Linked DNA regions of Homo sapiens. The protein of the gene in region 2 interacts with the protein of the main gene of each other region in a biochemical or structural test. Each region holds a gene or a part of one and is shown on either strand. Other genes may lie near its edges.

What was found.
Region 1: the proteins of SYN1 (region 2) and ERG form a complex in vitro, tested with the Homo sapiens proteins (one large-scale study listed by BioGRID).

What each region holds. Positions count from the first base shown.
Region 1 is NC_000021.9:38,383,250-38,387,062, forward strand, and holds part of ERG (transcriptional regulator ERG), read right to left. Parts: intron 675-3,813; coding exon 154-674; 3' UTR 1-153. UniProt on the Homo sapiens protein: Transcriptional regulator. May participate in transcriptional regulation through the recruitment of SETDB1 histone methyltransferase and subsequent modification of local chromatin structure.
Region 2 is NC_000023.11:47,616,832-47,621,329, forward strand, and holds the start of SYN1 (synapsin-1), read right to left. Parts: upstream 3,027-4,498; 5' UTR 2,898-3,026; coding exon 2,521-2,897; intron 1-2,520. UniProt on the Homo sapiens protein: Neuronal phosphoprotein that coats synaptic vesicles, and binds to the cytoskeleton. Acts as a regulator of synaptic vesicles trafficking, involved in the control of neurotransmitter release at the pre-synaptic terminal.

The DNA.
Region 1 (3,813 bases), on a different chromosome or scaffold from region 2:
AAGAGTCTTTGGATCTCTTCCCCGGCTTCCTTCCCCAGCCCCAGTAAAGCTTTTTTCATTCCTCTTGAGGCACTTTTGATTCATGTTCTCCGATAGAGTTTGTGGCGATGGGCTGGTGAATGCACGCTGATGGGAAAAGCCTCCGCCAGGTCTTTAGTAGTAAGTGCCCAGATGAGAAGGCATATGGCTGGTGGGGAGCCTAGTGTTGGGGTATATACCCCCAGTTGGTGAATTCCAGTATGGGTTTGGGGCAGCAAAAAAACTGGAAGATGTCACGGGGAGGGCTGGAGGGTGGGGCGCCACAAAGTTCATCTTCTGTGGGTGGGCGTGATAGGAGCCCATGTACGGGAGGTCTGAGGGGTACTTGTACAGAGATGACTCCGGGGGGTGGGGCTGGAGGGCCTGGGCGATCCCGTGGAAGTCGAACTTGTAGGCGTAGCGCTTCCCATGGACCTTGGTCATGATGTTCTTGTCATAGTAGTAACGGAGGGCGCGGCTGAGCTTATCGTAGTTCATGTTGGGTTTGCTCTTCCGCTCTCCCCAGCGCCGGGCCACCTCGTCGGGATCCGTCATCTTGAACTCCCCGTTGGTGCCTTCCCAGGTGATGCAGCTGGAGTTGGAGCTGTCCGACAGGAGCTCCAGGAGGAACTGCCAAAGCTGGATCTGGCCACTGCCTAATGAGGTCAGGAGAGGAAGGAAAACTCCAGTGAGCACAGGTTCCAGGGGAAAGAGGCTCTCTGTGATGACGGAAGGAGGTGCTATTGGTGTGCCGCCCACATTCCCTTCACCAGGCCTGTCCGTCCATCCCTCAGCTGCAGGGGTGCGGACTGCTCTCGTTCCATGGCCACCCACTTCTCCAGAGAACTGCCCTTGCCTGAACAGAGCCGCCGCCTCGCCCACCCCCAGGTATCCCACAGCTGGGTGGACTGAACGGGGTACCACGGGCCGGCCCCCTTGCCTCAAGGAAAGACCAACTCCATGACGCTATTCAGGCTTCAGGGCTCCCGTGGGATTGGGCTGAAACAGCGTCCAGCTGCAAGGAGGCTTGGAGGAGGCCAGAAACTTCCTTAGCGCTGCCCCTGCAGCACTTCCCATTCTCTCTCTCCTGAGAACATGCCGTTAATCAGTCACCTGCACAAGCAGGCTTACCCCAAGCTCTGCATCAAGGGAACCCGACCTAGGACGATGATCTAACAGATTCAAGACCTAGATGGAATGCAGCGAATTCATATGGGGCAAAGTTCAGGCTGCTTCCATCCATTTCTGACGTCCTTAAAAGAACAGCCAGATCAACCTGGTGTTTAGGGGATGAAAGAGCTATATATTTTTTTTTCCTATTTTGTGAAGCACAAAGTACTGTTATGTGGATGGCAATAATGACTTAATGCCATTTATATTGGCTAGGTCAAGTAAGATAATAAAAGTTAGATTTAGGAAATGAACTTCTAAAAGTTTATGGAAAAAAATCGAGAATGGAAGTAAACACCATTATTTCTAACATAACATTTTGCTGGCGCTCAGAAAGCAATTCTGTGAAAACTTTTCCTAGAACAGAATTAACCCACTCAAAATGAGGAAGTTTAGGAAAAAAAAAAAAAAAGCTGGCTCTTTTTCAAACCAGATCACCCAGTTCCAGTATTTGGGCAAGCGCATCGTAACGGAAACCAGTGCCTTGCCTGTGTGCTGCAACGCCAATTGTGTTAAGCAGCATTTCCAGAAGAAAAACCCCAACAATGAGTGATTGCAAGTCCCCTTGGGAAGCTGAATGAGACTCTTCCTTTGTCAAAGAGATCACATTTAGCTGGGTGGACAAAGTCAGAATTTTCTTGATTTCATTGAAATCATACAGATACAGCTTTGTTTTATGAAATTCAAAGAAAAATCTAGGCACATCATTCTAGCTGCTATGTTACAATACTTGAAGATAGTTTATGGCTCCCTAGAAGACAGCAGCATGTAAATATTGACAGCAGTATCCGTACCAAGAGAAGCTAAGCTGTGCTGAACATATTTCAGAAGCTTAAGAACAGATGGGAGGTGGGTCTTTCCTCCCAAATTCCAGTTACAGCACTGCCTTAGACTTATTACCAAAAGATTACCTTTTATTATAGTGTAAGTAATATCAATCGATGTGATAAAATGATTAAAGTAACTTTAACTGACATCTACTCAGGGAAGTAATATACTGTAAAAATCAATTTTACGTTCATTTTCTTCTAAATCCTCGCTAGCCTCCTGTACATATCACCCAACTTATAAACTCTGCTTTGCATGTTGGCTACATGGACATGGATATTTTTGTGAATTTATCCATACAATAGCACTGTGAGAAAGGTCAGCTTTTTCTGAATCTATGCTGGAAAGTGCTCATTTTCAGTCTAGCAACACATTTGAAATGTATTAACAGCTTGTAGCTCATTGAAGTGGAAGCCTTTGCTTTTTCAGAACCACATATACAAACTGTTCCCAATCAAGTTTTGTTGCCTCCAACATTTTATTAATATGCATTTAGAAAATACAAAGAATGGTATGAGAAAACCATATGGTCTTAGTATATATATTGTAACCAAAAAATTACAACTTGAAAAAATTCCGTATATGACCTGGGAATAGGAAAAGGCATGGATTTTTGATTTAACAGTCTAACAGATGCTTCAATATAAACACATACGGTTGTTTGAAAATAAATATTCAGCGTCAACTTTCTCCCATAGAGAAAGCAACTCCACAGACCTGCCGAAATCACACTTGGAATCTACTCAAACCTTGGCATTGCCTCTTAGCAATTTGTCCCTCACCCATTTCTCTTATAAACGTGTGTAGGACAGAATCAGTGGACAAAAGTGATCTCATGTCTCTCCTATTTCTGAAGAGTTAGAAAGCAGGGGACCTAAATTTGTGGCAGCAAACTCTATGCCCAAAGGATGGATGAGCTAATTTCTCACTTGACTATTTTACCCAGTAGCCATAAAGACATAGGGCTCAGGACTGTGAGAATTTCAAGGGAGGGTCTATAGAAATAAGAGAACTGTAAGCAAAATTCATCAGCTTTCAAACCTTGAAAGAAACCTGGAAATGCAAAATCAATGAATGTTTAAGTAAATGGTAGAAAGAGTAACATCATGTCAAACTCATTAATTGTTAAATTTAATATTTGTAACAAAATTCGCTGCATTTTGCAGTGTGTAGAACAAAATTTCTCACTGCAAGAATTCTCAAAAATGAACAATGGTTGTTAAAAAATTGTCAGTGGTAAAGGAATTATTCTCAGTCATAAAATTTTAAGAGCAATTTTTAAATTCTTATTTTACTTCCAAAACAATAACATTTAATGTGTGACGAGGTGCATTTTAGAATATAGAATAGAGATTTCCAAACAAGAATGCTTAGGGTTTAGGAAAGCCTAAAAGTGGCTTGGGTCACTCATGGGCCAAACCAGGATTTACAAAGAGAAGTTCTTGAAAGACAAGAGCTTTCATTGAGTAGCATCACCACCTCTACCTTAGGACTCACCTTTCTTGGGTAAACCCTTCAGATCTATTTTTTTTTTTTACTCTCTCTTAATAACATCCTTGCGATGTCAGTAAGGAGGAACTAATTTTTTCTTAGGGTAATTACCAAAATAAAACATATTTGGAGGTAAAAAACAGTGGCAAGCAGCATTGTCCACCTACAGAGAACCCTGTGGGTGAAAGGGAGCGGCTGTGGCTTTTAAGAAGACAGAGGCACTCCTTTAATTTTACAGAGGAAAGTAATCTCCTAATATTGTTAAAAGAAAGGGAGAGAAACAGGGTAGCAAAGGGGTACAGACTG
Region 2 (4,498 bases):
CAGTGCACATTGTGAGCTTTCAGGATTGTGTTGTGTAAAAGGCAGGATGGAGATTGTTGAAGGGGGAATTGGGACTACAAAAAGGGGAGAAGAGGCATTTAACGCAGGGTTCTCAGTAGTATACGATAAATGCTCATTAAATGATTGTGGGGTTGCATGGAGGAAAAGGTATAGCAAGGCCAGCTGGCAGGTGAGGATTTCAAGCACACCTGCATTTAGAAAAAAAAGAAGGAAGGGGAGCTGAAGAAGGGTTATTCCTAGTATATAATGGTGCATAATAAATGCCTCCCACACTTTCATGGAAAGGATGCAATAAATATCTGCAGAATGAATAAATTGCTCTGAATGGAGAGAAAGGCTACTCGGTAAAGGCTCCTGGGGGAGAGGTAATCTAACCAGTAAACAGCTGGTACTCAATACATTTAGGCTGAAGTAGACCCCTAGAGAGAGAGCTCTTGAGGCAGGGTCAGGGATTTCCAGAGACTTGGAAAGAGGAAGTTGAAAGTGACTTATACAGTAAGTGCTCAATAAGTGTTTACTTAAATAGTAAAACTATTAAGTAAATAGTAAATTTAGTAAATTTACTAAATTTATTTAGTAAATTAAGTCAATAGTAAAACTATTAAGTAAAAGTGTTTACTTAAGTAAGTGTTACTTAAATAGACTAAAAGCCCTTTGGGGGTATGAATTAAAGTTGGTAGAGGGAATCCTAGGGGTACTGAAGGGAGTGGGAAAGGGGTGATCATTATAAACTCAGCTCTGGATTTATCACAGGAAAGGACCTTGGGAGAGGCCTTGTGATTGGAACAGGCTCTCCTAGGGGTAAGGAAGAAGAATGTACTCCCCAAAACAACAGGTCCTGCATATGTGCTCACTGGATCTACTGTTAAGAAAACAATTCTGGGGAGGAGGTGTGAATATACAGAACACACAGAAGACACTCCATAAATGCTCAGGGGAGCCATTGGAAGAAAAGGTCTTTGGGGGAGGATGATTAAAATGGAGCACATGACAGACAAGGAATAAATGCTCACTGGATCCATTAGAAGAAAAGGCCTTTGGGGAGTGGGGCTGGGGATGGACATATAGTCACCTGATCAAGGCTCACTGCATCCCTGAAGGAAAAGTCCTATGGGGAGGGGAAATGGGAGTGCAGAAAGTTGATCTATGGGAGCTCGATTCTTCATCCATAGGAGAAAAGGCTTTTGTGAAGAAGGCACACAATCAGGTACACAGCAGGTGCTCCATAAATACTCCAAGGAGTGATTAAAAGAAAAGGTCTTTGGAAAGAGTGACTGGAATGGTACACACAGCAAGTGCCAGATATCTGAGCACTGTATTAACTGGAGGCACAGGCCTTTATGGAGAGGTCTAAGGTTGGGTCATGCAGAAAGTGCTCAATACATGCAGACTGAAGCCACTGGAGGAAAGGGTATTGCAGAAAGGGTTTGAGGGTGGGGTATACAGCAGGCACCAGTCAATGCATGCTTGCTGAATACACTGGAGGAAAGAACTTTTAGAGAAGGCTCACACTGCAGGCAGTTGATAAATGCTAGATGGATCCACCAAAGGAAAGGTCTTTGAAGAAGTAGCTGGAGAACGGGGGATACAAGAGGCACTCAATAAATGTTTTCTAGATCCACTGTAGGGAAAGGTCTTTGAGGAGACGGTCTGAAGATGAGTCACACAAAGAAGGTTCAAAACTGCTCATGGAACTCACTGGAGGAAAATGATTTGTTTGAGAAGGGGTTTGGGGGTGCGGCACGTATCAGGCACTTAACAAATGCTTCCTAGATCCTTTGGAGAAAAGGCCCTCAGAGAGAGGGCTTGGAGTTGGGGCACAGAGAAGGCATCCAATCAAAACTCACAGGATCCATGAAAGGCAAAGCTTTTGGAGAGAAGCTGGGGTGGGATACACAGCAGGTACTCAATGTTTACTAAATAGTTTAAAAGGGCTTTAAGGACGGAGCTGGGGTGGGACACATAGCATAGACTGGACACATGCTCACAAGACCCATTAGAGAAGGCCTCAGGGCAAGGGTTGAGGAGAACAGGACAGTATCAGGCTCTCAAAGAATGCTCACAAACCTCATTGAAATCAAAGGCCTTGGGGAAGGGCTCTTGGATGAGGCATACTGCAGGTACTAGATAAGTGCTCACAAGATCCATTAGAGGACAAGGCCTATGGGGCAAGGGTTGGGGAGGGTAGGAAGGACACGTTCGGTTTTCGAAGGCTCATAGGATATATTGAAGCCAAAGACTTTTGGGGGAGGGGTAGTAGGGAACAGGTACGCAGCAGGTGCCTGATAATTGCTCCCTGGATCCATCAAGGTTTAAGGGGCGGAGGGGGGCGACAAGGGCGGGGCACAGAGGAAGCATCCAGCTTAATAATTTAAAGGAAAAAGATTTAGGTGAGAGGGCCAGGTGTCAGGCACACAAGCGGCGCTCGATAATTGCTCATTCGCAGAAGAACGATCTGGGGACCCAGGCCCACGGGAGACGTCCGCGGCAGTGGCTTACCAGTCGGTGTGCGGCTCGTCGATGACCAGCAGCACCCTGGAGGCGGCTCCCCCGCGGCCTGCGCCCCCAGAGCCGCCGCCCACCTGCTCGCTGAAGGTGGCAGCTGCCGCCGCCGTGGTCTGCTTGACCGCGTTGGACAGCGACGAGAAGAAGCCACCGCCCCCCGAGGACCCGGGGCTAGGGGCGGCCGGAGAGGCCGCTGGGGCGACCCCGGAGGACCTCTCGGCAGTGGCGGTCCCGGGACCGGGCGTGGCTCCGGGGCTGTGGGCACCGGGCGGCGGTGGGGGCGGCTGCGGACGCTGCAGGTCTGTCATGTACCCATTTGGCAGATTGGCCATAAAGTTGCTGTCCGACAGGCGGCGCCGCAGGTAGTTCATGGCTGCGACTTGGGGCAGGGGGTCCTAGGGGTGGTCTGGCCAGGAGCCGCGGGGGCGGACTGCGCGGTGCCCAGGAGCACAGCTGCGCTCTCAGGCACGACACGACTCCTCCGCTGCCCACCGCAGACTGAGGCAGCGCTGAGTCGCCGGCGCCGCAGCGCAGATGGTCGCGCCCGTGCCCCCCTATCTCGCGCCTCGCGTGGTGCGGTCCGGCTGGGCCGGCGGCGGCGCGGACGCGACCAAGGTGGCCGGGAAGGGGAGTTTGCGGGGGACCGGCGAGTGACGTCAGCGCGCCTTCAGTGCTGAGGCGGCGGTGGCGCGCGCCGCCAGGCGGGGGCGAAGGCACTGTCCGCGGTGCTGAAGCTGGCAGTGCGCACGCGCCTCGCCGCATCCTGTTTCCCCTCCCCCTCTCTGATAGGGGATGCGCAATTTGGGGAATGGGGGTTGGGTGCTTGTCCAGTGGGTCGGGGTCGGTCGTCAGGTAGGCACCCCCACCCCGCCTCATCCTGGTCCTAAAACCCACTTGCACTCATACGCAGGGCCCTCTGCAGATACTCGGTTTGTAGTGTTGATATTCAACTCAGAAGGCATTTTTTGGGGGGAGGGGGGCACTGGAAGCACACTCAGAGACACGAAAGTAGAGAAATAACCCCCTCACAGAGGGGGGTGAGGTCACACGCAGTGCCCGCGGGGAGATTAGTCTCCCACATCCACACAGGCTCAGCTAGGCAGAGAGCGGGGGCGTCACAGACAGCATCAGACAAGCGGAGGTGGACACTTGGGTGGTGTACACACCCTTGCCCAAGGTGGCAAGGGGGGCCTGGAGGCACACAAGAAATGACACACATATAAACACACACAAAAGTGAGGAAACATACGAGGGCATGTACAGACAGAACACACGCCAATCTAGGTATACATACAGACATACAAGTCCAGAGTAACACACATGGGCATGTTACATACATGCATGCATACACCCATACCCCCACACACACAGGTAACACACTGACACACAGAGACCCAGGGAAACTCATATGAGCATACACTTGCAGACAAAACACATTCCCACCGATGATCATGGAGAAACCTAGATCTGCAACACAGACATTCTCTGCAGCCCTAGCCCTGGTGCGTGTCCACCCCCACACCAGAACACACTTGGTATATACGCCACCATCCCTTTGCTCTGGACACCGCCAAAACTCACGATAACTACCTGATGTCATCAGTGCCCATGGCTGTCTCCCCCTGCACCCAAGAACTTTCCACAGAGGCAGGCCCATCCCATGGTGCACACACAGTAGGTACCAAATAATGTTTGCATATGAGCAAATGAGGTAGTCCAAGCAGAGGTGGGATATGGGAACCTGTCAAATCTTTATGATTCTGACTACAATAAAAGCACTAATTCATAATCATTTGTTCACTGATTGTACCCAACTCTTAACTAAGCTGTTTACATGCATCATTTCATCCAACCCTCACAACAATCCAGTGGGGTGGATAATATAATGTCTATTTTACAGATGAGGGAATACAAGAACTCCAGTTAATTCCCAAAGGGTCATGTTCACTTTATGATCAACACATTTTTTTAA